Linked DNA regions of Homo sapiens: region 1 is linked to region 2. The links come from fine-mapping of genetic effects on gene expression. A gene starts in region 2. The other region holds a variant in brackets. All regions are shown on one strand. Distances are from middle to middle.

What was found. PIP is the estimated chance that this variant, and not a neighbour inherited with it, causes the effect.
Region 1: its variant is fine-mapped to the expression of KIF27 in whole blood (INTERVAL, PIP above 0.99).

The regions. Positions count from the first base shown.
Region 1 is chr9:84,050,324-84,067,161 of GRCh38, forward strand. It overlaps LOC101927575 (a long non-coding RNA gene), which reads left to right and starts at 13,120. Exons shown (of 9, transcript NR_110995.1): 1 at 13,120-13,206. The variant C/A (reference allele first, on the strand shown) is at 9,343.
Region 2 is chr9:83,916,062-83,932,899 of GRCh38, forward strand. KIF27 (kinesin family member 27) reads right to left here and starts at 5,371. Exons shown (of 18, transcript NM_017576.4): 1 at 5,310-5,371. LOC105376335 (serine/arginine repetitive matrix protein 1-like) reads left to right here and starts at 4,840. Exons shown (of 3, transcript XM_011519284.2): 1 at 4,840-5,200; 2 at 5,293-5,637; 3 at 8,605-8,824. The coding sequence starts at 4,840. The coding sequence ends at 8,741. RefSeq lists enhancers at 4,903-5,652, 6,267-6,771 and silencers at 4,974-5,353, 5,384-5,533.

The DNA of each region.
Region 1 (16,838 bases), 130 kb after region 2:
AGAATTAATACACACTATCCCTGTGGGATGTTGGTGAGTAAAAGAGACAGCAGTGCCTGGCACAGAGTAGTGCTCAGTTAATGGACCTATGGCCACATTGACCCAGTATGCTGAAGGTAATGACTGAGGGTTCTGGAGTGGGGAGGTTGCAGGCAGGCAGTGATAGGTTGTCAAGGTGAACACAAATGCTGCAAGCAGGAAGGACAGACTTACTCACTTTGATGAGAAGATAATTCCCACTGGACTTCTGGCATTGTAAGGGTAGTGTGATAATTCCAGCCTTCCTGCTTCAGTTGGGTGTTGTGCTGACACGGCCTAAGATGGTTTACGGCTGCTCAGTATTACTAAAATCACTTATACTTAGCAAATAAATTCCCTCGCTACTCTTGGATTGGATATTTTAAATCCCCCAAAGACAAGTAAGTGGTGAGTTGAAGGCAAATAAAAATAGATCCCATTTGCTGGGCATTGTGCTAGGTACTTTATGGATATTCCACATGATTATGAAAATGAAAGAAAACTAAGATATGTTCAGATTAATTAAAATATATAGTTATATTTTTCTAAAATTTGTTTAAATAATGAACAGGTTAAAAACATTTGTAAAGGAAAAAACCAGGATCCTGTAGAAAATTGATTTTTTTATTAAAGGTCTTTAGTGAATGGTAACATCTTATATGCAAATGAGGAAAATTATTAAGGTTTAAAGAATGATGATAAAACAAAAACAAGCATCTCCACCCACCCCACAGTTTGAGAGTTAGAATCATTCCCTGCATTTTAGAATTCCCATTGTCCTTCCTCACCCCACTTCCCTCTTTCAGAAGGAGCCCCCTGAATTTTATGTTTAATATTTTCTTGCTTTCTTGTTTAATTAATTGTAGCAGTCTGTATATGTTTTATTTTTATTTATTTTTTTTTTGAGATGGAGTCTCACCCTGTCACCCAGGCTGGAGAGCAATGGTGTGATCTCACCCCACTGCAGCCTCCGCCTCCCGGGTTCAAGCGATTCTCCTGCTTCAGCCTCCTGAGTACCTGGGATTATAGGCGCCCACCATTGTGCCTGGCTAATTTTTGTATTTTTAGTAGAGATGGGGTTTCGCCATGTTGGCCAGGCTGGTTTCAAACTCCTGACCTCAAGTGATCCACTTGTCTCGGCCTCCCAAAGTGCTGGGATTACAGGCGTGAGCCAATGCGCCCGGCCCAGTCTGTATATGTTCTTAAAGAATATGTTGTTCAGTGCTGCATGTTTTTGAACTTTATATAAATGGAATTGTACAGTTTGTGTCTGTTTCCTTCTTTCCTTCCTCCTAAACATTATATTCTTGAGATTCATCCATGTTGATGTATGTAGCTATACTTGATTTGTTTTGCTGCATAATATTTCATTATAGGAAAAGATCATATCTTCTGGATCCATGTATCCGTGGACATGCAGATAGATTGTTTCCATATTTTGCTTTTACAAATGTTGTTGCTATGGACCTCCTTGTACAAGTCTTGGGGCACACGTGCAATAATTTGTTGAGGGTTTATGCTTATGCATCAGGTAAAATTAGTTTAGTTTGGGCTGTACCTCCTCTTACTCCCTGCTCCCAGTAGTTATGATATCTGACACATCCAAGGTTAAAGAGGCAAGGAATAGGAAAGGTCTCAACTGTTATTCCCTGGACTTTGAAGGTATTAGGCTGAGTCTGTCTGAATTTAGTAGTGATCAGACTTCCTTGGGGCACCTTAGTGGTTTCTTCAGAGATACATTGCTGGGGATCTCCACCTGCAGGTGCCTTGACAGGGTTGAATGACTTCCTTTGGCTGGTCACTTATGATGACCTCAGTATCTCAGTATCCCTTGGACATATATTCGTACATCTTTAGCATCTTTCTGCAGAGGTCTTCACACTATTCCAGGTAGCCCTCATTAGCAAAATCCAAGACTGTTCCACTCCTGCTTGTCCTCCCACTACATTTCCCCTGACTCCCTTATCCCCCTAATGAGAAAGTCAAATAATTAATGGATTTATGGGTTATCATGAGAGTAGGACTGGTGGCTTTATAAGAGGAAGAGAGACCTGAGCTAGCATGTTTGGTCCCCTTGCCATGGGATGCCCTGTGCCACCTTGGAACTCTACAGAGGGTCCTTACCAGCAAGAAGGCCCTCATCAGATGCAGCCACACTACCTTGGACTTCTCATCCTCCATAACTGGAAGGAATCCAATCCTTTATCTTTCTCTCTTTCTCTCTCTCTTTCTTTCTTTTGACAGAATCTTGCTCTGTCACCCAGGCTGGAGTGCAGTGGCATGATCTTGGCTCACTGCAACCTCTGCCTCCCAGGTTCAAGTGATTCTCTTGCCTCATCCTCCCAAGTAGCTGGGATTACAGGTGCCCGCCACCATGTCTGGCTAATTTTTGTATTTTTAGTAGACATGGGGTTTCACCGTGTTGGCTAGACTGGTCTCGAACTCCTGACCTCAGGTGATCTGCCCACCTGGGCCTCCCAAAGTGTTGGGATTACAGGCATGAGCCACTGTGCCTGGCCAGGAATATATTTCTTTTCTTTTTAAATTACCGAGGTTTAGGTATTCTGTTATAAGCAACAGAAAATGAACTAAGACAGGCATCTATACATATATACTTGAAAATACACGGAATATTTCTGGCACATTTTCTATAGCAAACTGATAACACTGATAAAACCAATAATACTGCTTCTGAGGAAGGGAATTCGATTTAAGGTGTTCAGGGATGAAGACAACCTACTTTTTACGTATGTAATATACTATTTTGTATTTTTTGAATTATTCTTTTTAGCATATGCATTACTTTTGGAAAAATGCATTAATTTTGGAAAATAATCTTTAAACAAAAGAAAAAATGAGTTCTATTTGACTATTAGGCCTCTATGATTAATATTTGGCCTTTGTAGCATTGAACACTGCAACCTTAACATGGTAATTTTTTTCCATAATGACTGAGATAATAGTATTTACAATGTAATAAATATGTATGAAAAAAGATTATGACTATATTTTGAGCATAGTGAGTTTGGGGTGTCAGTAGGAAACAGGCAGATGGAAATATCTAACAGGAGTTGGAAATGTGGACTGGAGCACTAGTCAAAACTGAAGATTGTTATAAAAGACTGAGTAAAATACCCAAAGGAGAGAATGTGGAGGGAAGAAATGGGCTCTGGGTATAACCAAAGGCATCAATTACCTCTGGGGTCAGAAGAGGAAAGAGGAGTCAGAGAATGAGAGGCAGATCTGAGAGTGAACAGCTTTATACAAATCATGGGAGAAGATCACGTGAAGAAATGAGAATTGGTGGTAGTGGCTTGCTGCAGAGAATCTGAGGAGAATGAAAACTAAGAAAATCTGTAGATCTGATTTTTCAATTGTTATCAAGAGAGTATTTTCTGTACATGATGAGATGGTTAGAAGATGAAGGCTGTGAAAAAGAAACTTGGTAGTGAAGGGAAGGAGGGAAGGACAGGAATGTAGTTCAAGGGATAGCCTGGTGAGTGGAGGTGGGGTGTGTGTGTGTGTGTGTGTGTGTGTATGTGTGTGTGTGTGTGTGTGTGTATTTTAAGATGGGAAGCACATCAAACCATTTATACACTGGCAGGAAGAAGTCACAGAAGAAAGAATGAAGAAGTATTAAAATGTGGTCAGACTGGGGAGATTAAGAGCCATAAAGAGGGGCTTTCACCTTGAAATAGAGGAAGGTCACTTTTTAATCTGGGACAGCAGTGAAGGAAGCAAAGATAGGGAAGAGACAGGAAGTGATGTTAATGTAGAAGAAGCACCACCACATTTTGAATAAAGGAACAATGAGATCATCTGCAGAGAATAAGGAGATTGGAATAGAAGGGGGCTTTACATTTATAGAAGAGTGTTGTGCATTGTATAATTAGAAAAGAAACAGAAAGGGTCTTAAGTTAGCAAAGCAGGTGTTTTGCAGCAGCATGACATAATGAAAAGAACACTAACTTTGGAGCCAGAAAGACCTGAGTTTGAGTCCTGGCTTCATTCCTTGTTAACAAGTTACCAAACTGATCTTTCTTAATTCCTCAATTTTATTACAGAATAGGACAACAATACCTACTCTGTCAAGCTGTTATGCAGATTCAATGATAGGACATGCTAGTTAATTTTAGTTTCAACAAACATTTACTAATCTCCCATCATGCACCAGATACTCCGCTAGGAGTATCTCTTTATCCTGAGTTTAAAGTCTAGGAGGGGGGAATACACTTCCTCATTTTCTTTTGGGACAAAGAATAAACTTTTGCAGAATTATGAAGGGACTTGCTAAGTACTTTCCTGCTTGTGCACTTTTAAATACTGGATCAGATTCACCGGCGGGTTTTATTCTGGTCTGTCTGGATTTAGCCACTAATGCAAGGGAACCACTTCTCTGAGGCCGTGAGCGATTCTTACCCCTTGCCCTTTGGCAAAGCCCTTCACAGCTGCTGATTATGAAAGATGAGTGGCCTTGGACTGCTGACCACTTCAATGATGACTCGGCTTGTCTCATTCTTATCTCTGCAATAAGCCTGATGTGTATTTTTTGTCTTTTGTTGTTGTTGTTATTGTCGTTGGTAGTATCTAAATATAGAGTTGTTTATCTTTCAAATAGCCTCCCAGAGAGAAATGACCTGAGACTGAGAAACTGAGAACAATTGACCAAAATCATGAACAGTAATGAAATTCATTCATTTATAATCTTCATTACTTTTAGGGAGAGTAAGTAAAGACATGCATCCTTGATTAGAGAGATTGGATTAATTGTAATGATTGGACTTAGAGTGTGAGTCTACAGAAATCTTAAATTAAATTCTAACAGGAGTGCTTTTGCAAAAGGATTATAAATTAAAGCTTTAATTTGTGTACTTTAGTTGTTTAGGTGATTGTAACATCATTTAAGCATTTAATGACAGTGAAATTGTTCCAGTGTCATCGGTGATTTGTGATGAAGATCAGCACGTCCAGATCAGAACTGGGTTAATTGCAGCTCATCACCAAGGAAAGTACAAAACATTCTAACCAATACCAGGACTGTAGTGTAGACATCTTTCCCTTTTTAAGTTCTTTTCCAATGCCACTGAGCATTTATATCCTTGTATTGCATTAATAAGGATTACACTGGCCCCATTTCTAGAACTATGTAAATACCAACCTGACAAAGTTGGTGATAGGAAGTTCATAGATGTTTCTTTTTCATATATTGCCCTCTCAGTTCTCCCAGGTAGGCCAATCTGTTTTCCACAGGACTGATCTATTGCTCTGGTTGTCAGCCTTGTTTGAAAATTATTGCAGTGTCCATGGGCATCAGTGGAATATTCCAGCTGACCTTTGTTAGGCCTTTGAATAAAGAAGACAAAACAAACAAAACCCCAAGCAAGCCAACAACGACAACAATAATTGGCAAATGCCACAGTATCTTCAGTGATTAACCACGATTTTCTTTAGAAACCTTGTGAGTCTGGGCCGGGCATGGTGGCTCACGCCTGTAATCCCAGCACTTTGGGAGGCTGAGGCGGGCGGATCACGAGGTCAGGAGATCGAGACCATCCTGGCTAATATGGCGAAAACCCGTCTCTACCAAAAAAATACAAAAAAATTAGCCGGGCGTGGTGGCGGGCGCCTGTAAGTCCCAGCTACTCTGGAGGCTGAGGCAGGAGAATGGCGTGAACCCGGGAGGCGGAGCTTGCAGTGAGCCCAGATCGCGCCACTGTACTCCAGCCTGGGCGACAGACCTTGTGAGTCTGTTAAAATAGAAGCAGACACAAGATTAATTTGCTTCAAGTGAGATAATCCGTGAAAGGCATTCACTCCACACAGAGCCTGGCACAGGGTCAGTGCTCAAAAACGGCAAGCTTATTACCATTATTTTTATTATTTGGAATTAATGTTATCTGTTTCCCCCTCCCTCTCGCTTTTTGGTCCTCACTTTTTACTCGGAATACCAGTGGAATAAAGGTAAACAGCATCCGTTCTCATTTCTGAGGACAGGCTGCCCTGATGTTGAAGGTGATAGAATGGTCAACAGCCCTGGAAGCCCACTTCAGATTCTGGGTAGCTTTGCTGGGTCACCATGGCCTTGCAAACTGGCAGCTGGCTGGAAGATTGACGCTATGTTTGGCATTGGCTTACAATGGAGAATTGCTATGCGTAGCCAAAAATCTTCCCTGGCAGCCAGGAGTGGAGAGCAGCCTTGGACCCCACTTCACAGCATTCCTTTAAATGATGTTACTGTATTCACAGGCCAGAATTTAAACGTTTGCAGTAACAAGGGAGCCAGTTTTTGGATAGTCAAAGGCATTTTGTCAACAAAAGAGTATTCAGGCCATGCTATATATTTATGGTTCTATTCATCTCACCTTGTAGATAAGGAGGATTTGGAACCGCTGTAGGCTCTAAATAAACTCTTATTTTAATGCAGATGGCTCCTTATTCTAAATAATATCCTTTATATTCTTTTGCCTCAGACTTGGCATTTCTAACTCCTTGATGAATATTTCTACTCAGATTTCCAGCCATTAACACCTGTTCCCAACTCCTTATTTTCTATCTGTGCTATCACGATTATTGAGAAACTGTATATATAGTGATTACAATTGAGGGCTTTGGAGGCTGACTGCTGGGTTTTAAATCCCTGCTGTGCTATTTACTAGGTATGTGGACTTGGATAAGTTATTTGACTTCCTGGTGCCTCCTTACCTCCTCTTTGTAATAATAACACATCCCTCATCAAGTTGTTGTAAGCATTGAATTAAATGTTTAGACCAATGCCTGGAATGTAGTCAGTGCTTGTATCAGTTTGGTTGTATTAGGCTGCAAGTAACAGAACACCAATTAATAATAGCTTAGGCAATAAATACATTTAATTATCTTTTTTTTTTTTTTTTTTTTTGAGACGGAGTCTCCCTCTGTCACCCAGGCTGGAGTGCAGTGGTGCAATCTTGGCTCACTGCAACCTCCGTCTCCCTAGTTCAAGCAATTCTTCTGTCTCAGCCTTCCCGAGTAGCTGGGACTACAGGCTCATGCCACAACATAGTAGAGATGGGGTTTCACCATATTGGTCAGGCTCGTCTCAAACTCCTGACCTTAGGTGATCCACCTGCCTTGGCCTCCCAAAGTGCTGGGATTACAGGCATGAGCCACCACATCTGGCTCATAATTATCTTATATAAGTAGAATTCTGGAGGTGGGAAGTTCCAGCCTTGCTGCAGCAGTTCAGTGGTGCCACCAAAGACTGCATGTCTTTTTCTCTTTCCCTTCTGCCATCTTTCCCATGTCAGCTTTTCATCTTCATGGCTATCACAGGTCACCAGGCTGCTGCAGCTCCAGGGATCAAGGCAAAATGAAGGGGAAAAGGCAGGGGTGGCATCGACTGTCTCTTGCATCAGGAAAGCAAAAGCTTTCCCAGTTCCCAGGAGCCTTCCAAAAGATTTCTCCCTACATCTTATTGCCAGGACTAAGTCACATGTCCTCCCGTGACTTTGAAGGAGGCTAAGAAAGTGACGATCTAGTTTTCCAGCTTCTGTAATAAGAGAAGAGAGTTGGGCATGGTTGTAGAGGCAGCCAGGCCACAGTGACTGCCACAGTGATTAATATATGTTAGCTGTTACTGTTATTATTATTCCAGTTTTTAAAGTTAAAGATGTTGAAATTATTTTTCATTCCCCCTCTTCTTCTTTAACACTCAGTCACCAAGTTCAGCGATTCCTCCTTCTCAATGTTTTCCATGCCTACCCGATCTTTCCTTCATACTATTCCTAATGTTCCGGTGTTATTATCTCATGCATGGAAAAATGCAGTCAGCTTTCTTTCTGTCTCCTCTATCTTCAGTTTCTCCATGCTCTGCTCTATCTTGCACTCCACCAGATGAATCTTCATCAAATATCTCTATCATGCCATGTTATTGCCCAAATTCTTTAATCTCTTCCTATTGTCCACAGTAGTGATTCTTAAACTTCAGCATAATTAGAATCACATGGGAAGGCTGGGTGTGGTGGCTCACGCCTGTAATCCCAACACTTTGGAAGGCTGAGGTGGGTGGATTGTTTTAGCTCAGGACTTTGAGACCAGCTTGGGCAACATGGTGAACCCTGTCTCTACAAAAAATACAAAAATTAGCCGGGCACGGTGGCATGCACCTGTAGTCCTAGCTACTCAGGAGGCTGCTGAGGGGGTGGATTGCTTGAGACTGGGAGGCGGAGGTTGCAGTGAGCCAAGATCAAACTGCTGCACTCCAGGCTGGGTGACAAAGGGAGACTCTGTCTAAAAAAAAAAAGAAGAATCACCTTGGAAACTTGTTAAAAATCAGATGTCTTCTTAAAAGCAGGTATTGAGGTTATAAAATAATATATTCTCAATATACTCACAGTATAATTGGCAACACAAACAAAATAATTATAATTCAGGGAATTTATTTTCTATGTTACTCATTTGGCACATTAAATTTACTGCTTTACATAAGATCCACAATCAGTTATTTTTTCATGTATATATGTCTCATTTCCTTCAATAGATCAGACATTGCTTGAAGGCAGAGATTCTGTATAATACCACACTGCCACTGTAATTAGTCCTAAAATATCCGACACAATTTTTTTGAATAAATCAATGGTATTCATGCAAAATATTCAGTGGGTACTTAATAAATGTTGGACTTATCTAGCAAAAACAATGGAAAACCTCAGACAAGATTGGGTAAAAAACAAAAACAAAAAACACCTCTATCTATTAGAATAGATGTATAGCTTGAAGCAACAGAATTACTCTTGGCTGAGAAATGGCTACAATCTAATAATGTAGATCTTGCATGAATCAAATGGAAAGACACAGTGTAGATCTATCACAAATACTAAGCTTCAAGGGGTGAAAGGGCACTGTTAATCAGTAATTCTATCAGTAATAGGATTAGTTTGATTATTATGGAAGAGATCACCCATTCAATAATGTTCTTTTCCAGGCACTCCTGATACCCACTGGAGGTAATGCTGGTTTTGGGAGCACAATGTATTGTGAATAAAATATACGAAGAAAAAAGGTAATTATTTATACCTGTTTGGTGCCAGGGTCTTCAATGATGAATAAGACCCAGTCTCTCAAGGAACTTGGTATCTAGTAGGAAAAAGAAGCATGCAGACAAGTCTAACAGATGATTTCCAGTATAACCGGAAATCAGAGAGGAGCATGAGTGTGTGAGTGAGGCAGGAGAAGAAGAGAGGATCTCTTCTGTCTGGAAGTGTGAGGACACCTTTTCCCAAGGAGTTATCTGCTCTCTCACCTTCCTTTCAGCTTCTCTTGGAATATTGCTAGAGTTATTATTTTTAT[C/A]ATGTTTGGTCTCACCTTCTCACCAACTACTGAATTTCAGAGGTAAATATCCAAGGAGTTGATAACATCTTTGTTTCTTCATACTAATGAAACGGGAAACAATTTCAGAAGTCATCCAATCCAACCCAGCCTGACAAACAAAATGGTCATCTGTTCTCTCTCTTTCTATCTACTCCTGATTCCCCCAAATCCCCGCATTTCTCAAATATGAGAGACTAAGGATAATCAACCATCCTGCTGTGCCCCGGAAAAAGTACTGAAATGCAGGACTTTCATTGCTAAAATCGGGACAGTCCCAGACAAACCAAGATGAGTTGGTCACCCTAGAGGGCAGTAGAAATAGTTAGAATGAAGGAGCCTGGATTAATCTATGCTAAATTCCTAACTGGGCAATTCCCTTAATGCTGATGGTTGCTTTATAGTATCAGAATATAAATGTGTCTCTGGAAGACAAGCCTATGCAGATTCAGAGCAAACATCCCACCACAGCCTACCAGGCTTGACTCATTCACTGGCTGGGTGAAGTCAACACAAGCATGTGTTTTCAATAAATATTTGATATAACTTTGTTTTGATTATACTGGGCTCTTAGGGGCAGCATTGTGTTCCCACCCAAATTCCTATGCTGAAGTTCTAATCCCAGTACCTCAGAATGTGATTGTATTTGGAGAAAGAGTCTTTACACATAATTAAGGTAAAATAAGGTCATATAGGTGGACCCTAATGCAATATGACTGGTGTCCTTATAAGAGGAGTAGATGAGGACAAAGACACAATAGAGGAAAGGCTGTGTAAACACAAGGGGAGAAGATGGCCATCTATAAGCCAAGGAGTGAGGCCTCAGAAGAAATAACCCTGCTGCCACTTTGATCTTGGACTTCCAGCCTCTGGAATTGTGAGAAAATAAATTTCTGTTGTTTAAGCCACCCAGTCTGTGGTACTCTGGTATTGCAGCCTCAGCAAACTCATATATGGGCATTGTTATGTTGCTTATAACAATGGAAAACGGACTGGGTAATTTATAAAGAAAAGAAATTTATTTCTTCCAGTTACGGAGGCTATGAAGTCCCAGGGCGAGGGGCCACATCTGGTAAGAAACTTCTTGCTGATGGGGACTCTGAACTGAGGCAGGGCAGGGTATCACACAGCAAGAGGGATGAGCGTGTGAATGTGTGAGCTCAGGTCCCTCTTCCTCTTCTTATAAAGCAACCCATTCCACTCCCATGGTAACCCATATATTCATTGACCCTTTAACCCATTCATCCATGAATGGATTAATCCACTTATGAGGGCAGAGCCCTTATGATCCAATCACCTCTTAAAGGCCCTATCTCAATACTGCCACATTGGGGATTAAGTTTCAACATGACTTTTGGAGGGGATAAATATTCAAACTACTGGGCCAGGTGTGGTGGCTCATGCCTGTAATCCCAGCACTTTGGGAGGCCGAGTTGGGCGGATCACAAGGTCAGGAGTTGAGACCAGCCTGGCCAATAGGGTGAAACCCCTTCTCTGCTAAAAATAAAAAAAACTAGCCTGGTGGGGTGGCACATGCCTGTAGTCCCAGCTACTCGGGAGGCTGAGGGAGGAGAATAGCTTGAACCCAGGAGGTGGAGGTTGCAGTAAGCCGAGATCGCACCACTGCACTCCAGCCTGGGCGACAGAGTGAGATTTCATCTCCAAAACAAACAAACAAACAAACAAACTATATATATATACATACATATATATATATGTATGTATATATATTCAAACTACAGCAATTGTCTTGAGTTGGGCTTTCTCAGATGTATATAGTGATTTATGCAGAAGTAGTTTATTTGGGAGGTGATCCCAGGAAGCCCTGATGACAGAGGTGAAGGGAGAGGGAAAGGAAGGAAACTACTTCAGAGCAGGTCACTGCTGGGGGCAACTGGATCTGCATTCCACTGGGGGCCTCTGAAAACTGTGTAGAACACACCTCAGGTTGTCCCACCCGAGGGGCAATTTACCCTCCATCTCCCATTCGTTATGGGGGGAACAGGGATTGGCTTACAGCCTGGCAGCACCTGCCTGCCCTGCACAGTAGTGAGCTAATTTCTGCTGCTAGAGAAAGCCCTCAGGGAGGGTTGGGGGAGCTTGCAATAAGAACTGCAGGTGTGCACAGCAACAGTCTCTGTGTGTTTTATTTGCTTTTGTAATAACAAACAATAAAGATTTCAAAAGCAGGAAAGTGATTGTATTACTGGGAACAATTTTATTTAACTTTAACATTATAACAAATCCATTGCCAGTTTCACTTTGGAATTTGGCCTAGAATAAAAGTGGCTTTCTCTAGGCAGGGTGTGAGATGTGATATAAGCCGTGTTCTTTCAGCGCCCCGGTGGTATCATGCATCAGGCTCCTCACAGTGCCAGACTCACTGTCATTCTTAAATTCCTAGAGATTGGGCCTTGTTAGTGCTAAAGGCCTCTGAGGCTCCTTTAAATCAGTCACATATTGATTAAAATAAGAAGGGAGATTCTCCCTTTCCTACCTAAGCTAGCTGAGGGCATATAGCAAAATCTCTTTTCCTTGTGTCAAAATTAAAACAGGACTCTCAGTGTCCTGCGCCATCTACCCAGGGTAACTTCCTACCCTTCCCATTGCTAAAGGAGATAGATAGTAATTATTCAGCACCCCCCTCCATGAGGACTGACATAGATAATGCAAGTAGAGTTCTCAGCAAAGGGCATGGCTACTAACTGCACACATCGAAGCCCATTGAGAATACTGGTAATTTGTATATTTATTTCATGTAACCAGAAATCTCCATATTTTATTTAAAAATAAATTTTGTCTCTGGGTGTTGTTTCACTTGCGAGTACGCCAGGCTTGTGACTGTGTATCCTTTGTCCTCCTGGCTTAAGTATCTCCAAGTAGAATTATTGGGAAGTTTTTAGATAAAATAAAAATCTTAGGAAAGGTTGGGGCTGGCCTTGGAGGAATAGAGGGGAGGGAAGGAGACAGAACTGGGTCCTGGGAAAAAGGAGGCAGGCAGGCTCCATGCCAAGGGCTGGGATTAATCCTGGGCACCTAGCCTCTTCCTCTCTGAGTTCTCCTTCACCCTTTGCCAGTTTTCACCAGTGACTCTGATAGACTGGGGTGCAAATATAGAAATGACTAATGACATAAAAAAGTTGTTTGTCCATCGTATGTTCTCACTCATAAGTGGGAACTAAGCTATGAGGATGCAAAGGCATAAGAATGATACAATGGACTTTGGTGACTCAGGGGAAAGGGTGGAAAGGGAGTGAGGGATAAAAGACTACAAAGTGGGTTCAGTGTATACTGCTCTGGAGATAAGTGCACCAGAATCTCACAAATCACCAGCAAAGAACTTATGTAACCAAACATCACCCATTCCCCCCAAAACGTATGGAAATAAAACATTTTAAAAAAAGGAAAAGGTTTTAAGGTTTTTAAAATATGTGTAGGGAAAGATTATCTCAGATGTATTTTTAAAAAAACCAAGATATTTTATAGGGATTTAATAGATGTTTTCAAAATCAAAATAAAAGTTGTTTTTCCTCATTAGTAAGCCAGAAAGTTGGAATTAAAACTACAGTGATGTAAGTGCCTGAGTCTTAAGTAAGGGTCTTAATATTAGTCTTAAACAGAGGAGGGATAGGGTTAGAAACTTTCTAAATGAATGCTCCCTGACTGAACTCATTGTTTTAATGCAGCATATAATCCTCTGGATAAATCTCTGAATAAAATTTCAGATGAAAAGAACACTTAAATGGCCACATTATATCAACAGAAAGACAGGCATTTCAGGACTAAAAAAGAACATAACATATGGAATACTGAAAACCTGTACTGTAGCCCAGCGCCAGGCACCAGGTATGTCTTCAACAGATGTTAACTATGATTATGATTATTGTCACCCAATAACCATCTTTCCCATCTAGTATCTCATGGGAATTTCAGAGAATTCACGTGTATGGGAGTATAATGGAGATGGAGACTCTGTAGGGAATTGGGGTGCAGGGAAATTCATCTGTTTCACAATGCACACCCACATCAAGTGACTCTAATTCTCCTTTCAATAAGAGTTTTTGCTCTCAAAAACCCTCTTCTCTTCCAGACTGTCTCTCTCCTATGTAAGCCTAATGTTTTTCTCTCCTGCTTTATAGATTTTCCCTCATACCTCCTTCAAATTCTTTTCTGTGCCATGTAATGTGAAAGCCACAAAAATTGACCTCAGGTCATTACAGTCTACTAGAGGAGCTATAAACAACATTATTTAGAATAGAGAGGTTGACCACCGTGACATGCTAGAGGCATAAACGGTAGGGGTTCAGTGGAGAGGAGACATCATAAGACAAGTGGCATGGGCATTGGTCTTAAAGGATAAATTGGATTCTGTCTGAAAACAGTAGGAAATAATATTATTGGTGGAAGGAACAGTTTGAGCAAAGACACAAATGTGGCAAAAGCCAGGGTCTGATCTTCCCAGCTTGAATGCCAAACTAAGGGATCCAGGCTGTATTCTATAGGCCAACATTTTGAGCAGCTCATCTGAGCCATATTGGAGATATTAATCATAGACTGGTTGTCATGAATGGATGGGAAGAGGCAGGGGCAGGGTGCAGGAGGTCAGTAAAGAGGACATCCCCATTACTCTTCAACTCTCAGATAGTCAGATATAAATGTTAATTCTTGCCTTCTCAGAAATGTTTAAGGCATCTCCATTGTCCACAAAATAAAGAATAAACCCCTTAAAATGCCATTCAAGGCCTCCGTACTAGTCAGCTTGAGCTGCCATAATAAAATACCATAGACTTGGGGCTTAAACAACAGAAATTTATTTCCTCACAGTTATGGAGGCTAGAAGTTCAAGGTTCTGGCCAGTTCAGTTTCTGGTGAGGGCAGATGGCTTGCAAATGGCCACCTTCTTACTGTGTGCTTATGTGGCCTTTACTTGGTGGTGCTCATGGAGAGAGAGAGCAAGCTCTCTGGTGTTTCTTTCTATAAAGGCTAATCCTTTTGAATCAAGACTCCAGGGTCACACCCTATGACCTCATTTAACCTTAGTTCCATAGAGGCCCCATCTCCAAATAGAGCCAGACTGTGGGTTAGTGCTTTGACATACACATTTTTGTGAAACACAAACATTCAGTCCATGACAGCTTCCTAGGAAAACAGTAACTACCATCTGTGAAGTGCCTACTATAGTCTAGGCATTGTGTAAAGTTCTTTACCTACATTATTTCATTTAATCCCCTCAAGAACAGCATGAAGTAGGTATTTTGTTGTCTGCATTTTACAAATGAGTCTCAGGGAAGGTAAGTACTTTGTCTATAGCTGTACAGCCTTTAGGGGAGGAGGCAGACTTTTAAGGGGAATCCACCTTGAGGCAGGAGGAATCCACATTGAAGGGGAATTGGAAGCACTCCACTCCCCTGACTGACTGCTTCCGACTTCAGCTGTGGCTCTGTCCTCCCCACCCACTCTGGTCCCACTGTATAACTCAGCATTTTCTCCACGTGACATAATTCTTGAGGTCTTGTGTTTGCTCATGCTGTTTTCTCAGACTGTAATGCCTTTTTTTTCTTCTTTTTATTAATTGTTCAAGTTTCCCCTCAAGGGGCAATGCCTCTGTGAAACCTTCCTGTACATCTTTTTTGTTGTTGTTGAATCATATGTATGTGAAACCTTTCTAAATATTCCATGCTGTTTCATTTGGCCTTGCATTCTGGTTACCTGTCTAAATGTCTGTATTTCCTTGCCATACCACCAGATTATACATATTTTGAGATATTTTACATGTGTGTATTTTACACCATGCCCAGCACACAGTAGGTGCTTTAATAGACATTTACTGAGTGAAGGTCAAGGTGAGAGTTAGTGAAGCTATAAACTAGAGGAGTGGCAATGGAGATGCAAAGGAGAGGATGGATTGATAAGACCTGGTGACTTTGGATGTGGGGACTGAGGGAGAGGCCAAGATGACTTGAAAGTTTTTCAAGGTAAGAACATCAGTGTTACTATAGAAGCCAGGAGGTGTTGCTACTTGCGGGGAAAGACACCATTAATAGAGGCGGTAGTAGTAATAATAGCAGCTTCCACTAATTAAATACTTGAATCACTCAGCATGCCAAGTGCTTGTCATATATTGCTCACCTATTTCTCATAATAATCTTGTGAGGTGAGCATTATTCTCAATGCATAGATGATGAAATGGAGGCTCAGAGAGATTAAGCAAACTGCTCAAGGGGGCACAACTAGCAAGCATCAGAACTGAGATGCAAACTCAAGTCTGTCTGACTCCAAAGCTTGTGTCCTGAAGTATTATCCTCCTGAAAACTGCCGAGTGACTCTATTTCCTGTTCTCCAAGGGGCAGCAGGGGAGGTCTCGCCATTTGCCGACAACTCTTTGTGGTGTCTGGTGACTGATTGGTGGTCAGTGCCATGTTGGTTCTTCATGACACAGACAATCCCCTGCACACAGATGGGAAGTTCCCAGGGATGGGAGAGAACATGAGATGTCTCAGCCAGGCCCTGGATGTCTCCTTGCCTTCCCTCCTTCTCCTCTCGGGCTGTACAAGCTGTTCAGCAGAAGTTCTTAGAGCATCTAGTCTTGTTCCAAAGAGACATAGCCATGGCCAAAGAGAATCTGAGGAACGCTAGGAAAAGTCACCTCTTCTATGTATTTGGTGTAAACTGGGAAGAAAAGGTCCCAACATATCTCATCACAGTCAGCAGTAAACAAATATCTTTATCAATAGCAGCATCAACAGCTTGTATTATAAGTGGGTGTGAGGGATTCCACTTCTTGGAAGGTCAAGTGTGGGAGATATCCAGGACTCAGGTCACTGAAGTGGGCACATATCCCTAATAACGCAAGAGCCTGGTAATGGAAACAAAGATTTCAAATTTGTCAATGATAAAACTTTTCTTAGTTTTTCATCTTGGAGAAAAAGAGTAAGCTAACAGGAAGTACAAAACAGGAATACATATTGCAGAATTCTTTAGGTAATACTATACTAGGTTTGTGATTGTATTTTAAGACTGATTACATGAAAGAATATTAATTAGGCCTATGAGAAGTAGCAGTATAAGTGGTTTGACAGAAATGTGAGATGAATGTATAGCAGATTTCAGCAGATAATGGCAGAAGAGTTGGGGGATAGGTCTTTTCCAAAGACTAAATGGATTGACTTGTTTATTCCGGCAATGTAAAGGAAGGAGGAATGATTGTGACTTTCTTCCTGTGATATGAAAATTGAAATGGGTTGGGCGGGGCACAGTGGCTCACGCCTGTAATCCTAGCACTTTGGGAGGCCGAGGTGGGTGGATCACTTGGGGTCAGGAGTTTGAGACCAGCCTGGCCAATGTGGTGAAACCCCATCTCTACCAAAACGATAAAAAATTAGCTGGGTGTGGTGGTGGGCGTCTGTAATCCCAGCTACTTGGGAGGTTGAGGCAGGAGAATCGCTGGAACATGGGAGGCGGAGGTTGCAGTGAACCAA
Region 2 (16,838 bases):
TGAGATGGAGTCTAGGCTGGAACGCAGTGGTGAGATCTCGGCTCTCTGCAACCTCTGCCTACCAGGTTCAAGTGATTCTCCTGCCTCAGGCCTCTCGAGTAGCTGGGGTTACAGGCGCCCGCCACCACACCCAGCTAATTTTTGTATTTTTAGTAGAGACAGGGTTTCACCATATTGGCCAGGCTGGTCTCAAGCTCCGAACCTCAGGTGACCCGCCCGCCTCGGCCTCCCAAGTGCCAGGATTACAGGCGTGAGCCACCGTGCCCAGCCTGTACATGTGTTAAAAACAAACATTAGTACTAGATTTTATAGCTATGCATTGAAAAATAGCATCTCCTCTTTGCCACAATTATTAGAAATAAATCCATGAAAATAGTTTTAAGAATTTCAATAAGTCAACATAAATTTAAAACTAAATTTGTATTCAAAAATAATCAAAACTAACAGAAAAACTGCTTTTTCTACTTCTAAATATTATGTTGTACTTATTTCTGAAGATCTCTGCTAGAATTAATACATTAAAATTTAAATTGATGGCTGTAGTTTCCTGGCTAAAAATATATATAAACAAATAATTGGTAACTACATTTACAATGAACACTTTTTTTTTTTTTTTTTTTGAGACGGAGTCTCGCTCTGTCGCTCAGGCTGGAGTGCAGTGGCGCGATCTGGGCTCACTGCAAGCTCCACCTCCCGGGTTCACACCATTCTCCTGCCTCAGCCTCCAGAGTAGCTGGGACTACAGGCACCCGCCACTATGCCTGGCTAATTTTTTCTATTTTTAGTAGACATGGGGTTTCACCGTGTTAGCCAGGACGGTCTCGATCTCCTGACCTCGTGATGCGCCTGTCTTGGCCTCCCAAAGGGCTGGGATTACAGGCGTGAGCCACCGCGCACGACAGAACACTCTTTTTTTTTTAAATATATATATTTTATTATACTTTAAGTTCTAGGGTACATGTGCACAACGTGCAGGTTTGTTACATATGTATACATGTGCCATGTTGGTGTGCTGCACCCATTAACTTGTCATTTACATTAGGTATATCTCCTAATGCTATCCCTCCCCCCTTCCCCCACCCCACAACAAGCCCCAATGTGTGATGTTCCCCTTCCTGTGGCAGAACACTCTTAAAAATAAATGTAAAAAACAATTCCATTTACAATAGCATCAAAAAGAATAAAATACTTAGAAATAAATTTAACAAAAGATGTGTAAAACATATAGTCTGAAAACTATAAAATACTGTTAGAAGAAAGCACAAGATGTAAATGAAAAAACATCTCATGTTTATGAATTGAAAGATATATTAATATGTCAGTATTCCCCAAATTATCTACAGACTCAATGCAATACCTATCAAAATGTCAGCTGACTTAGTTGCAGAAATTGACAAGCTGATCCTAAAATCACAGAAAAACTCAAGAGACAGAGAATAACCAAAACAATATTGAAAAAGAACAAAGTAAGAGGACTCACACTTTCCTAATTTCAAAACCAAACAACAGTAATCATGATAGTGTGGTACTGGCATAAAGACAGACATATAGATCAACAGAATAGAATTGAGAATCCAGAAATAAACCCTCACATTCATGGGCAAGTGATTTTCAACAAAGATGCCAAGACAATTCAACTGAAGTATAAGAATACTCTTTTCAACAAATGGCACTGGGACAATGGATAAAATAATGAAGTTGGACTCCCTACCTCATATCATATACAAAAGTTAACCAAAAATGGACCATAGACCTAAACATAAGAAGTAAAACTACAAAACTCTTAAAAGACAGGAGTAACTCTTTATGACCTTGGATTTGGCAATAATTTCTCAGATATGACACCAAAAGCAATAAAATAAAAAATACCAATTTGAACATTATACATTGTATACATGTACTGAAAAATCACACTGTACCCCATAAATATGTACAATGATTTTGTCAAACAAAAATAATAATAAAAGCAAAAAATAAAGATGAAGTATAGATTAAAAAATAAGTAAGACCCAGCCTGGGCAATATAGTGAGACGCCATGTCTACAAAGAAATTTTTTTTTTCAATCAGCTCAGCATGGTAGTACGCACCTGTGGTCTCAGCTACTTGGGAAGCTAAGGCGGGAGATTGGCTTGAACCCAGCAGCCAGAGGTTACAGTGAGCTGTATCTGCACCACTGCACTATAACGTGGACAACACTATAATGTGGACAGCAGAGCAAGAACTTGTCTCAAAGAGAGAGAGAAAGAGAGAACGAGAGAAATGGGGGGGGGGCAGGACAGGGAGGGAGAGGAGGGAGGGAGGGAAGGAAAAACGACATCAAAATTAAAAACTTTGTGCCTCGAAGGAAACTACCAAGAAAGTGAAAAGACAACTCACTGAATGGGAGAAAATATTTGCAAGACATATATCTAACAAGGAACTTGCAACTAGAATATATAAATATTATAACTCAAAAAGTTTTTTAAAAATTTTAAATAGGCAAAGCATCCGAAAAGGCAGTTCTTCAAAGAAGATATACAAATGAATAATGAGCACATGAAAAGATGCTCACCATCATTAGCTATCAGGAAAATGCAATCAAAATCACAATGAGAGGCCAGGTGCACAGTGGTTCATGCCTGTAATCCCAGAATTTTAGGAGACTGAGGTGGGAGGATGACCTGAGGTCAGGAGTTCAAGACCAGCCTGGACAACATGGTGTAACCCCATTGCTACCTAAAATACAAAAATTAGCCAGGCGCAGTGGCTCAAACCTGTAATCCCAGCATTTTGGGAGGCCGAGGTGGGAGGATCACCTGAGGTCAGGAGTTCGAGACCAGCCTGAACAACATGGTGAAACCCCGTCCTTACTAAAAATACAAAAATTAGACGGGCATGGTGGTGGGCGCCTATAATCCCAGCTACTAGGGAAGCTGAGGCAGGAGAATCGCTTGAACCCAGGAGGCAGAGGTTGCAGTGAGCTGAGATCGAACCACTGCACTCCATCCTGGGCGATACACCAAGACTGTCTCAAACAAACAAACAAACAAACAACAACCACAATGAGATACCAATCCACATCCACTAGCACTGCTATAATAAAAAAGACAGATCATAAGTGTTGGCAGGGTATAAAGAAATTAGAACCCTCATACACTATTTGTGGGAAGGTAAAATGGTATAGCCACTTTGGAAAACAGACTGACATTTCTGCAAAAAGTTAAACATACAGTTATCTCTTGACCCAGCAATTCCACTCCATCAAATGATCCAGCAATTCCACTCCCAAGAGAAATGAAAACATTGTGTTCGCATAAAAACTTACATACAAATGTTCAGTTTTGGAAGGATAAAGCTTATACAAAATTTAACAAGTAATCTATGACAATGTTTGAGTGCAGATGATGAAAAGTAATGAATTTGAGGTGAGGTTAGGTTCTTTGGAAAAGCTGCTGAGTCTTGAAGATTACCATTAAGTAACACAGACAACTAGACTGAAATAATATTTTATTAATAACACTAACAACAATGAATTGATAATATTCACTACCCTTGAAAAAAAAAAAACCATGGCCCAGCACGGTGGTTCACATCTGTAATCCCAGCACTTTGGGAGGCCAGGGCGGGTGGATCACTTGAGCCCAGGAGTTCGAGACCAGCCTGGGCAACATGGAGAAACCCTGTCTCTACTAAAAATACAAAAATTAGGCAGGCATGGTGGCGTGCGCCTGTAATCCCAGCTACTCAGAAGGCTGAAGCGAGAGGATCCCTCCTGAAAACAAAACAAAACAAATGTGAGCCACGATGCCCAGCCTCATTTCTTGGGGTTTTTAATGGTAATATCTATAAAGAATTTGGTTATAAAGGCAACTGAAACTTATTCTAAGCATTAAAAAAAATAATAATGGGGCCGGGCACAGTGGTTCACACCTGTAATCCCAGCACTTTGGGAGGCCAAGGCAGGTGGATCGCTTCAGCCCACGAGTTCCAGACCAGCCTGGGCAACATGGTGAAACCCTGTCTCTACTAAAAATACAAGAATGTGCCAGGCTGTGGTGACGCACCTGTAGTCCCAGCTACTTGGGAGGCTGAGATTGGAGGATCGCTTGAGCCCGGGAGGTTGAGGCTGCAGTGTGCCACTGCACTCCAGCCTGAGTAACAGAGCGAGACCCTGTCTCAAAACAAAACAAACAAACAATAGTAATGGTCCACAAACATAGGGCTTGTAAAACATCAATATACAAGAAATAAAGTTTTTACACAATCCATAGCACTTATACTTCAGATTCTGATCAATTATAGTCATCAGAAACATACGTATTATGTTGCCAATAAATGATTTAAAAAAAAGCAAAATCTGATTGGTCGTATTTAAGTATACTCAACGGGTTTTTGAAATCTGAGCAAAGGCAAGAGAAATATTGAATCCCTCATGTCATGTCACTGGTCAGGAATGAGTGTCTCCAAAAACCGTTGCCATCCCGTACCCTTGATTTCCCAGAAAGCAGTGGTTGTCTTAAATGTGTGGTTTGTTAATTATTTTCATAAAAAACTTGCCAGTAGATGGACAGTAAATCGCATACGGAGCTCAGAAAAGGCCCCAAATGCGTAAAGACGACAAAAGAGTAAAGAAGGGCAAACAACAAGGATTTTCAACACTGGAGACTTAAAAGGTGTTACTTAAAAGGTGTTTCAAAGAAAGAATCTGGGCGCTTTGCTCTTTATAGTCACCTGCCTCCGAGGGAGGGAGCTCTCGGGCTTGAATGTGCCCAAGGTTCAACCTCTACGGTAGGAAATGCGCCCAAGTTTCAACCTCTACGGTGGGAAATGCGCCCAAGTTTCAACCTCTACGGTGGGAAATGCGCCCAAGTTTCAACCTCTACGGTGGGAAAAAGACGCCTGCGATAAAACAAAGCGCTCGGTGGTGGTGGCCCTCGCGTCGCACCTCACGCCGTGCAGCGACACGAGACGAACACAGGGTGCGCTCTGAAAGGCCGGGTCCCGCGTTCCGGTCGATCGGTGTTCCCCGGGACCCGCTCCTCAGGGCTGACCCAACTTCCTCCGGAAGGGGCGCTCTGCCTCTAGTCGCTCGCCGGCTCCCAGCCCCGACCCCAGACCCCTCGGACGCCCCCATAGGCCTAGCTGGCGCCCCAACCGCCCACCCTCCGCTACCCACCCGCGGCGGCCCCGACCCCAAGCCGGAGCCTACTAGTCCCAACGGCCGGCTGGGGGCGCGGGAGCGGCGGGCGCGGCGGGCTGGAGGGCGGGCACCGCGAAGGGAGGGCGCCCCACTTCCCCGCACCGCCCGCCAGGCCCGCCGAGCACTGACCGGCTCGGGACAGCCCAGGCCCCTGTCGGCGAGCGCTGGACTCCTCAGCTTCGCTCTGCCACACCGCGCAGCCGCCGTCCGCGTCTTTTGTTGTCGCGAGTTCTCCTGGCAACCGGCGAAGCCCGCCTCCCGCCGCGTCCTCTCCTGGATGCCGCGTCCTGGCCCCGCCCCCATCCTGGCCACGCCTCCAAGCCCGCCGCGCAGGAGTCCTGCGTCCCCAGGAAGTCCGCAAAGGGCCGGCCCCTGGGCTTGCCTGCAAATCCGAGTTGTGTCCCACCAACGCGCTGGGACCGGTCTGTGAGGCCTGAGCGCAAGCATCTTTCTACGGGTTCGTGAAATGAGTGAGAACGATTCCACACCGTGTTTCAATATCTTAGCTACCAATTCAGTTTATTTTTATTTTTATTGAGTAAAACTTGCCTAACATAAACCATCTTAAAACTCACAATTCAGTGGCGTTTAATGCATTCACAGTGTTGTGCAACCATCACCTCTGTATATAGTTCAGAAACATTTTCATAACCCCAAAAGAAAATCCCCAAACCAGTTAGCAGTCATTCCTTCTGGTTCCCCTCTCCCCACAACCCCAGCCAGCCACTAATCTACTTTCTGACTCTGTGATAGCTTTACCTATTCTGGGCATTTCTTTATTGATGGAATCATTCAGTATATGACCTTTTGTGTCTAGCTTCTTTTGCTTAATGTTTTCAAGATGCAGTCATGTTGTAACATCTATCAGGACTTCTTTTCTTTTTTTTCTTTTCTTTTTTTTGAGACCGAGTCGCGCTCTGTCGCCCAAGCTGGAGTGCAGTGGCGTGATCTCGGCTCTCTGCAACCTCCACCTCCCGGGTTCAAGCGATTCTCCTGCCTTAGCCTCCCGAGTAGCTGGGATTACAGGCGCGTGCCACCACGCCCGGCTAATTTTTTGTATTTTTAGTAGAGACGGGGTTTGTTTCACTGTGTTAGCCAGGATGGTCTTGATCTCCTGACCTCGTGATCTGCCCGCCTCGGCCTTCCAAAGTGCTGGGATTACAGGCGTGAGCCACCACGCCCGGCCCTTTAGATGGAGTTTCGCTCTTATTGCCCAGGCTGGAATGCAATGGCGCCATCTAGGCTCAACGCAACCTCCACCTCATGGGTTCAAGCGATTCTCCTGCCTCAGCCTCCGGAGTAGCTGGGATTACAGGCATGAGCCACCCTGCCCGGCCCTATCAGGACTTTTTAGGGCTGAAAAAATTCCATTGTATGGATATAGACATACCACATTTTGTTTATCCATTCTTCAGCTGGTGGTGGACATTTGGGCTGTTTCCATGCTGCTATGGACATTCACATACAATATTTGGATGTCTGTTTTCAGTTCCTTTTTTTTTTTTGAGATGGAGTCTCGCTCTGTTGCCCAGGCTGGAGTGCAGTGGCGCTATCTCAACTCACTGCAAGCTCCGCCTCATGGGTTCAAGCAATTCTCCTGCCTCAGCCTCTGGAGTAGCTGGGATTACAGGCATGTGCCACCACCACGCCTGGCTAAGTTTTCTGTATTTTTAGTAGAGACGGGGTTTCACCATGTTGGTCAGGCTGGGCTCGAACTCCCGACCTCAGGTGATCCGCCCACCTTGGCCTCCCAAAGTGCTGGGATTATAGGCGTGAGCCACCGCGCCGAGCCTGTTTTCAGGTCTTTTAGGTATGGACGTAAGAGTGGAATTGCTGGGTCGTATGGTAATATTTAACTTTACCAATTTAGTTTTAAATGCTTTAATGCCTCCTGTTTTTAGTAGCACAATCTAAGCATCTTCAAAAACCCTTCCTTCTCTCATGAAATATAGGAATGAAGGTGGGGGAAAAAAGCTGACTATTTTATTTATAGTTTTTATTTTTTTTTCTTTTAACTGAATTATTTAAAATTTTAAAAATTCAGTCTGGGCACAGTGGCTCACACCTGTAATCTCAGCACTTTGGGAGGCTGAACTGGGAGGGTCACTTGAGCCCAGGAGTTTGAGACCAGCCTGGGCAACATAATGAGACCCCCCATCCCTACAAAAAATCAAAACTTAGCCAGGTGTGGCTGAGTATGCCTGCAGTTCCAGTTACTCTGGAGGTGGAGGTGAGAGAATGGTTTGAGCCTGGGAGGTCAAGGCTGCAGTGAGCTGTTGTTGCACCATGGCATTGCAGCCTGGGTGACAGAATGAGACTCTACCTCAAAAAAATAATAAATAATACATAATTTTTAAAATTCTAAGATTTCATTTATACACATACCTGTGTATTGAGTCATGATGTCAAGGGAATGTCTGATAGTGGCTCAGTATCAATCAAATGCGAAAGCCAGTGTCCTGGGCTTGCTTTTCAGATTGGGGTGATGGATTATTTCCTAGTCTTCCAAGGTTCCCCTCATGATTGGTGGAGATTGTGGTTGCCCAATTTGACTATAGGGCCAAGTTGCATTTTTAGAACTCTTTGAAAACAAACAAAAACTCACATCATGACTGTGAATTGGTAAGTCAGACTGGTCTGCTGACAAAACTTCAATAATTAATAGTACGTAACAATTTAAGTCTAGGAATACCCAGAAGTCTCAACAGAAGTTCTCAAGAGGCCACACAATTGCAGAGAGGAGGTCAGCAAATGCCCAACAGCATTAGAATGGGGCATTTTCCATTGTCCCCAAATTGATGTCTTGAGTCCAGAGTTAGAGAAAAGGAGTTACTTAAGTTCCCCACACTGTGAAGTGAATGCCAGTCATTGCCAACCCCTCCTCCCTAGGATTTATAGCAGGACTAAGCTAATTCCATTCAAATTCCAATCCTATCTCTTTTTTAAGTATCTGTAAGAAAGACTCGGCAGTGGAGTCAAGGGGTCTTGGGCCTTGTGGGTTGGAGAGTAAGAGGCCTCCCACCTAAGTCAAAGGAGGCTCTAAGAGTGACGGGCAAACCCTGTGTGATGTGCTAGAAGAGGAAACCTGGCCTTCTGGTGGGAGCAACTAGGGGAAGAAGTGAGCTGATCTTCTTCTCAAGAATGGAGCGAAGCAACTGAGATGTTGCTGTAGTAGAGCAGTCTGTGTTCCTGCAGTTTAGCAGGGGGAGAAGCTGTGATTTGCTCATGGTCCAGGGGATCCTTTGGAGGGTACCCAAGCTTGAGCCCCATGAAGATTGTCTTGAGGACTGTCTCCTGCAGATAAGTCCCCATCAGTAAGAGGCAGTGGGAGGAGCTGGGCTTGGGATTAGCAGAAGTAATTGAGCCAGTGCTGGATCTTCTTAAGGGAACTAGGTCTTCTCCTTAAGGGAACTGTATCTTTCAGGTCCACTGAAGAACTCTGCATATGTCCCATGGGAGACCAGCTTTGGGCTGCTTGTCCTACAGAGAAAAACATCCATGCCCAGTCCACTTTACCAGAAAAGCAGTAACAAACAGAAGATTACAGCTAGACCAAATTAAATAAAGAAATATGTGCCCTTTTCGCCTAAATCATCTTCCCTCACCCATATTTTGAGAAAAGCTGGATCCAGGAAAGAAAGGAAGTATTAAAGGAAGTATTAAGGAAACCACAGATCATACCTCTTCTCCCACTTTAAATTCTTTTAATGTTGCTATAATGTTTGATGAATTCCCTTAATTTCTCTGGCGGGGAGAAAAGAAGCTTTATACTTTAAAAATGGGGTTTCTTTAAAAATGGGGGTGGGCGGTGGTGCACGCCTGTAATCCCAGCACTTTGGGAGGCTGAGGCGGGCGGATCATGAGGTCAGGAGTTCGAGACCAGCCTGGCCAACATAGTGAAACCCCGTCTCTGCTAAAAATACAAAAATTAGCCGGGCATGGTGGCATGGCCCTGTAGTCCCAGCTACTCAGGAGGCTGAGGTGGGAGAATCGCTTGAACCCAGGAGGCGGAGATTGCAGTGACCCGAGACCATGCCATTGCACTCCAGCCTGGGTGACAGAGTGAGACTCCGTCTGAGAAAAAAAAAGGGGGAGGGGTGGTTTCTGTGCCATCATTTTGCCTTTGGCTCCTTAACTTAGTGCAGAGAATGTTAGCTTTCCTAAGGAAACATACTGCTTGGGTCCTGTCAACTGGTGCCAGGTGGATTTGCTTGGCCCTATGGTCAAATTGGGCAACCACAATCTCCACCAATCATGAGGGGAACCTTGGAAGACTAGGAAATAATCCATCACCCCAATCTGAAAAGCAAGCCCAGGACACTGGCTTTCGAATTTGATTGATACTGAGCCACTATCAGAAATTCCCTTGACATCATGACTCAATACACAGGTATGTGTATAAATGAAAACAAGGCCAGGCACAGTGGCTCATGCCTGTAATCCCAGCACTTTGGGAGGCCAAGGCAGGTGGATCACTTGAGGTCAGGAGTTCGAGACCAGCCTGGCCAACATGGTGAAACCCCTCTCTACTAAAAATACAAAAATTAGCCGGGTGTGGTGGTGCGTGCCTGTAGTCCCAGCTACTCGGGAGGCTGAGGCAGAAGAATCACTTGAAACCGGGAGGCAGAGGTTGCAGTGAGCCAAAATCATGCCACTGCACTCCAGCCTGGGAAACAGAGCGAGAGTCCGTCTCAAAAAAAAATAAATAAAATAATAAAAATAAAAATACAAAAATTAGCTGGGTGTGGTGGCACGAGCCTGTAATCCCAGCTACTCGGGAGGCTGAGGCAGGAGAATCACTTGAATCCTGGAGGCAGAGGTTGCAGTGAGCCGAGATTGCACCACTGTACCCCAGCCTGGCGACAGAGCGAGACTCCATCTCAATAAATAAATAAATAAATAAATAAATAAATAATAAATAAATGAATGAAAACAAAAGTTTTGGGAAACAATACTTACCTTTACTAAGTGCAATGTTCTATGTATTTTATTTTATTCTATTCTACTTTTCTTTTTTTTAGAGACAGGATCTTGCTATGTTGACCAGACTGGTCTCGAACTCCTGGCCTCAAGTGATCCTCCCATCTCAGCCTCCCAAAGTGCTGGAATTACAGGAGTGAGCCACCATGCCTGGCCCTATTCTACTTCAATTTTTTTTTTTTTTTTGAGACAAGGTCTCACTCTGTCACCCTGGCTGAGTACAGTGGTGCAATCATGACTCACTGCAGCCTCAACCTTCCAGGCTCAAGCAATCCTCCCACCTCAGCCTCCCAAGTATCTGGGAATACAGGCACCGGCCACCATGCTCAGCTAATTTTTTATTTTTTTGTAGAGATGGATTCTTGCTGTGTTGCCCAGGCTGGTCTTGAACTCCTAGCCTCAAGTGATCCTGCTGCCCTGGCCTCCCAAAATGCTGGGATTACAGGCATGAGCAACCATACCCAGCCCAATTTTTCTTAATGTTGATTACAACCCTTTAAATTGATTTCATGACCTACTAATGGATTGCAGCCTGCAATTTGAAATATTCTGGTCTAAGGTAACAATCTGGCTGAAAATGGATGAAAAATGACATTTTCATCTACTAAACACTATTATACACCTATTACCTTATTTATCTATTGCTGAACTATTTCTTCAGATCTTAGTGGCTTAAAACAAATTTCTTGGCCGGGCTCGGTGGCTCATACCTGTAATCTCAGCACTTTGGGAGGCCGAGGTGGGCGGATCACAAGGTCAGGAGTTCAAGACCATCCTGGCCAACATGGTGAAACCCCGTCTCTACTACAAATACAAAAATTAGCTGGGTGTGGTGGCAGATGCCTGTAATCCCAGCTACTTGGGAGGCTGAGGCAGATAATTGCTTGAACCCCGGAGGCGGAGGTTGCAGTGAGCCAAGTTTGCACCACTGCACTCCAGCCTGGCAACAGAGCAGGACTCCATCTCAAAAAAAAAAAAAAAAATTCTTATGTCGTAGCTTCTATAGGTCAGAAATCTGAGCATGGGTTAGCTAGATCCTCTGCTTCAGGGCTGTCACAAGGTTGCAATCAAGGTGTCAGTCAGGGCCACGAACATTTCAGGGTCAACTGGCAGAATCTGTTTCCAAGCTTCTATAGTGTTTGGTGGTAGTTCTTGAGGGTTGTTGGACTGAGGGACACATTCCTGCTGGCTATTAGCCAGAGGCTGCCCTCAGTTCCTTCCCCTTAGTTCCTTGAACAGGTGGCCCTCTGCATCACATTGAGCATGTAAGATGAGCCATGGAAAGAAAATCAGCAAAAGAGAAGTCAGAGTCACTTATAACTTGATTGTAGACAGGATATCCCATCACCTTTGCCACATTCTGTTCATTAGAAGCAAGTCACTGGGTCTATCCCACATTCAGGAGACAGGTTGCATGAAAGTATGAATACTAGGAGGCAGGATTCATTGGAGGCTACCTTTATTTCCTCCCCGCCTCCACCCCATTCCCTATTCTAATCACCAAATTCTGCTTGTTTTACATCTGAATATTTCAAATCCTTTCTACTCTAGTTCAAGATTTCACAATCACTCACCTAGACTACTGCAACAGCCTACCAACTAGTCCCCCTGTCTCCAGTCTTGCACTTACAAATCCACCCTCCACACCTTCTACACTGATCTATCTAGGACATGAATCTCACTGTCTGTCCTTTGCCTAAAGCCTTCCTGTGATGGCATGGAGAATACTATTCCTTAACAGCTGGAATGGGAAATCTATATGTGGACAGACAAAGTTTTGCTGAGAAGATGCTTTGCTAGCCTGCCCCTAGGTGGAAGATAAGCCTTGGAAGCCTGATTTGGTTGGTACCCAAGCTTCAGAGAGGAGGGTGGTGTTGCTCATATGAGACAAGGGGAAGAATTATTTGACTGCTCTTGAGAAGGAATGAGGAAGATGGGGGAAGGGGGTGGTGTTGGGAGAAGCTGAAGCAGAGAGGAGGCAGAGAATAACTGATAAGGGAATCCCAGGGACACTGGGAATGGCTAACGGAGGCATTTATTGATTGATTGACTGAGACAGAGTCTCGCTCTGTCACCCAGGCTGGAGTGCAATGGCACAATCTCAGCTCACTGCAACCTCTGCCTCCCGGTTTCAAGCGATTCTGCCACCTCAGCCTCCTGAGTAGCTGGGATTACAGGCAAGCGCCTCCACTCCTGGCTAATTTTTGTATTTTTAATAGAGACGGGGTATCACCATGTTGGTCAGGCTAGTCTCGAACTCCTGACCTCATGATCTGCCTGCCTCGGCCTCCCAAAGTGCTGGGATTCCAGGCGTGAAACACCGCGCCCACCCAGTGGTGGCCTTTATGTTCCTGCTGTGAAGTGTGCAATTCAAACCCCTTCCTCTGTCTCCCCTGCAAAATCTTCAATGATGTCTGCATTGCTAACTTACACATTTGTCCAGTCTGGTGCTGGACAAAACCATAGGTTGACCATGTGGACCTAGAAGGCAGAAGATTAGAAGAAAGCCAAAGGTGTAGTGGGTCATTTCTGCAATCCCAGCACTTTGGGAGGCCGAGGCAGTAGGATCAGTTGAGGACAGGAGTTCAAGACCAGCCTGGGCAACACAGTGTGAATCCCTTCTCAAAAAAAAAAAAAAAAAAAAGAAAAAGAAGAAAGAAAGAAAGAAAGAAAGAAAGAAAGAAAGAAAAGAAAGAAAGAAAGAAAGAAAGAAAGAAAGAAAGAAAGAAAGAAAGAAAGAGAAAGAAAGAAAGAAAAAAAAAAAAAAAAAAACAATTAGTTGGGCATAGTGGCTTGCACCTGTAGTGCCAGCTACCTAGGAGGCTAAGGCAGAAGAATTGCTTGAGCCCAAGCGTGGGAGGCTGCTGTGAGCTATGATTGAGCCACTGTACTCCAGCCTGAGTGACAGAGCAAGACCCTGTCTGTAAAATAAAATAATTTTTAAGACTAAAATAAAAAATCATAAGATGTAAAAATTTTCAACAAAATTCACTAAAATGATAACCACCATCATCTCTGGATGGTGGAGTTAAACGTTATGACTTTTTTAAAAGACAAGGTCTTACTCTGTTGTCCAGGCTGGAGTGTAGTGGTTTGATCACAGGTCATTGTAACCTTGAACTCCTGGACTCAAATGGTCCTCCCACTTCAGCCTCCAGAGTAGCTAGGATACAGGTGCACACCACCATGCCTGGCTAATATTTTATTTTTTTTTGTATTTGTTTTTTGTTTGTTTGTTTTTGTTTTTTTGAGACAGAGTTTCACTCTTGTCACCCAGGCTGGAATGCAATGGCATGATCTCAGCTCACTGCAACCTCCACCTCCTGGGTTCAAGTGATTCTCCTGCCTCAGCCTCCTGAGTAGCTGGGGTTATAGGCCCCCGCCACCATGCCCAGTATTTTTAGTAGAGATGGGGTTTTGGCATGTTGGCCAGGCTGGTCTCAAACTCCTGACCTCAGGATACACCTGCCTCGGCCTTCCAAAGTTCTGGGATTGCAGGCGTGAGCCACTGCGCCCGGTCTAATTGAATTTTTTGTAGAGATAGGGTCACTCTATGTTGCCTGGGCTGGTATTGAACTCCTGGTCTCAAGCCTTCCTTCCCACCTTGGCCTCCCAGAGTGCTGGGATTAGAGGTGTGATTCACTGTGCCCAACCTGTTATTTATCTTTATATCTCTATTGTTTGTTTGTTTGTTTGTTTGTTTGAGACGGAGTCTTGCTGTGTCACCCAGGCTGGAGCGCAGTGGCACAATCTCAGCTCGCTGCAAGCTCCGCCTCCCGGGTTCACGCCATTCTCCTGCCTCAGCCTCCCAAGTAGCTGGGACTACAGGCACCCACCACCACGCCCAGCTAATGTTTTTGTATTTTTAGTAGAGATGGGGTTTCACCGTGTTAGCCAGGATGGTCTCGATCTCCTGACCTCGTGATCTGCCCACCTCGGCCTCCCAAAGTGCTGGTATTACAGGCGTGAGCCACTGCGCCCGGCCTTATGTCTCTATTGTTGAGCACAGTCAATGTCTAATACATAATAGATAATAAGCACATCCCAGAGAGTCAATGAATGTTTATGGAAATAAAAAAATTTAAAAACAGAAAACAAGTAACTTGCTCAAGCCTACATGGTTAAGTGACAAAGGCAAGACTGAAGCTTCCATCTGTCAGATGACAAAGTCAACACACCTCCCCAGAGGCTGAGCTGAGCAGAGCTGCAGTATTCTATATAATGAATCTCAAGTTTTGTTGTTTGTGTTACAGCTGATTGGCTGCAATCAGGATCCAAACATGGACCATATATGGCATTTGATTGATATGTACCTTAATTCTCTTTTAATCAATAACAATTACCCTCACCTTTAAAAAAATTGTGGTAAAATGTACATAACATAAAATTGACTATCTTAACACTACTGAGCTGTACACTTTAAAATTGTTAAGTACTGGCTGGGTGTGGTGGCTCACACTGTAATCCCAGCACTTTGGGAGGCCGAGGCGGGTGGATCACCTGAGGTCAGGAGTTCAAGACTATGTGGCCAAAATGGCGAAACCCCATCTCTACTAAAAATACAAAATTAGCTGGACATGGTGGCGCATGTCTGTAATCCCAGCTACTCAGGAGGCTGAAGGCAGGAGAATCACTTGAACCTGGGAGACGGAGGTTGCAGTGAGCCGAGATCATGCCACCGCACTCCGGCCTGGGCGACAGAGCAAGATTCCATCTCAAAAATACATACATACATACATGCATACATACATACATAAAATGGTTAAGTACCTTCACATTGTTGTACAGCCAATATCCAGAACTCATTTCATCTTGGAGAACTGAAACTCTACACCCGTTAAACAATAACTCACTATTTCCTTCTTTCTCTGACCCCTGGCAGCCACCATGCTACTTTCTGTCTCTATGGATTTGACTATTCTAGGTTATAGAAGTGGAATCATAGAGTATTAGTCCTTTTGTGACTATTTCACATAGTATGATGTCCTCAAGTTTCATCCATGTTGTTACATATATCAGAATTTCCTTTCTTTTTGAGGCTGAATTAATATTCCATTGTATGTATGTATCACAAATTGTTTATCCATTCATCCACTGTTGGTCCCTTGGGTTGCTTCCACCTTTTGGCTATTGTTAATTATGCTGCTGTGAACATGTATGCATAAATATCTCTTTGAGAAACTTTCAGTTTTGGGGATTATTGCTATGGATTGAATGCTTGTGTTCCCCAAAATTCATGTTGAAACTCTAAATCCCAATGTGATAGTATTTACAGGTAGGGCCTTTAGGAGGTAATTAGATTTAGATGAGGTCATGAGGGTTGAACCCCATGATGGAATTAGTGTCCTTTTAAGAAGTGGAAGAGGCCGGGTGTGGTGGCTCTTGCCTGTAATCCCAGCACTTTGGGAGGCTGACGCGGGAAGATGGCTTGAGGCCAGGAGTTTGAGACAAGCCTGGGCAACAAGGGGAGACCCTGTCTTTACAAACTATTTACAAACTGGCTGATTGTGGTAGCATGTGCCTGTAGTCCTAGCTACTTGGGAGGCTGAGGGTGAGAGGATCAATTGAGCCCAGAAGGTTGAGGCCACAGTGAACTGTGACCATGCCACTGTATTCCAGCCTGGGTGACAGAGCGAGACCCAGTCTTAAAAGAAGAAAGAGACAGACAGAGAGAGAAGGAAAGAAAGAAAGAAGAGAAAGAAGGAGAGAAAGAAAGAAAGAAAGAAAGAAAGAAAGAAAGAAAGAAAGGAAAGAAAGAAAGAAAGAAAGAAAGAAAGAAAGAAAGAAAGAAAGAAAGAAAGCAAGCAAGCAAGCAAGCTGCTATTTGTCCTATAGGATTTCTCACACTTTAGAATTGGCTGATCATATACTGTATTTTCATTTAACTTGTTCCTCTGTTTCCTACATTTCCTGTTAACCAGTAAGTTAGATCTAGATTCTTGATTAGATTCAGGTTCAATTCTTCTGGCAAGAATAATTCATAGATGGGCATATGTACTTCCTGTTGCAACACACCAGGAGGCATGTAATGTCTGCATATCCTGCTTTTGGTGATGTTAAGATTATAGATGAGTACAGATATTTTTCAGTATAATCCATCCATTAAAAAGTTCCTCATCGGCTGGGCATGGTGGCTCATGCCTGTAATCCCAGCACCTTGGGAGGCCAAGGCGGGTGGATCACTTGAGGTCAGGAGTTCGAAACCAGCCTGGCCAACATGGTGAAACCCCATCTCTACTAAAAATACAAAAATTAGCCAGGTGTGGTGGCACATGTCTGTAGTCCCAGCTACTCAGGAGACTGAGACAAGAGAATTGCTTAAACCTGGGAGGCGGAGGTTGCAGTGAGCCGAGATGGCACCACACTGCACTTCCAGCCTAGGCAACAGAAGGAGACTCTGTCTGGGAAAAAAAAAAAAAAAAAAAAAGTTCCTCATTAACATTTTACCTAGAAGCCATTGAGGATCATTTCCCATATCTATTATTTCGTTAGGGATTGCACAATGGTAATGTTCTAATATTCCTTTTTGCATTTATTAGCTGGTATTGTTCTATAAAGAAGAGCTTTTCCTCTATCAGATTATCCTGAAATGCAGTTAGTACAGGAATAACAGAATAAATGCTTTTTTCCTTTTTATTTACCAATTTTCAGAATTACAAATTGGTCCCTACCAACCTT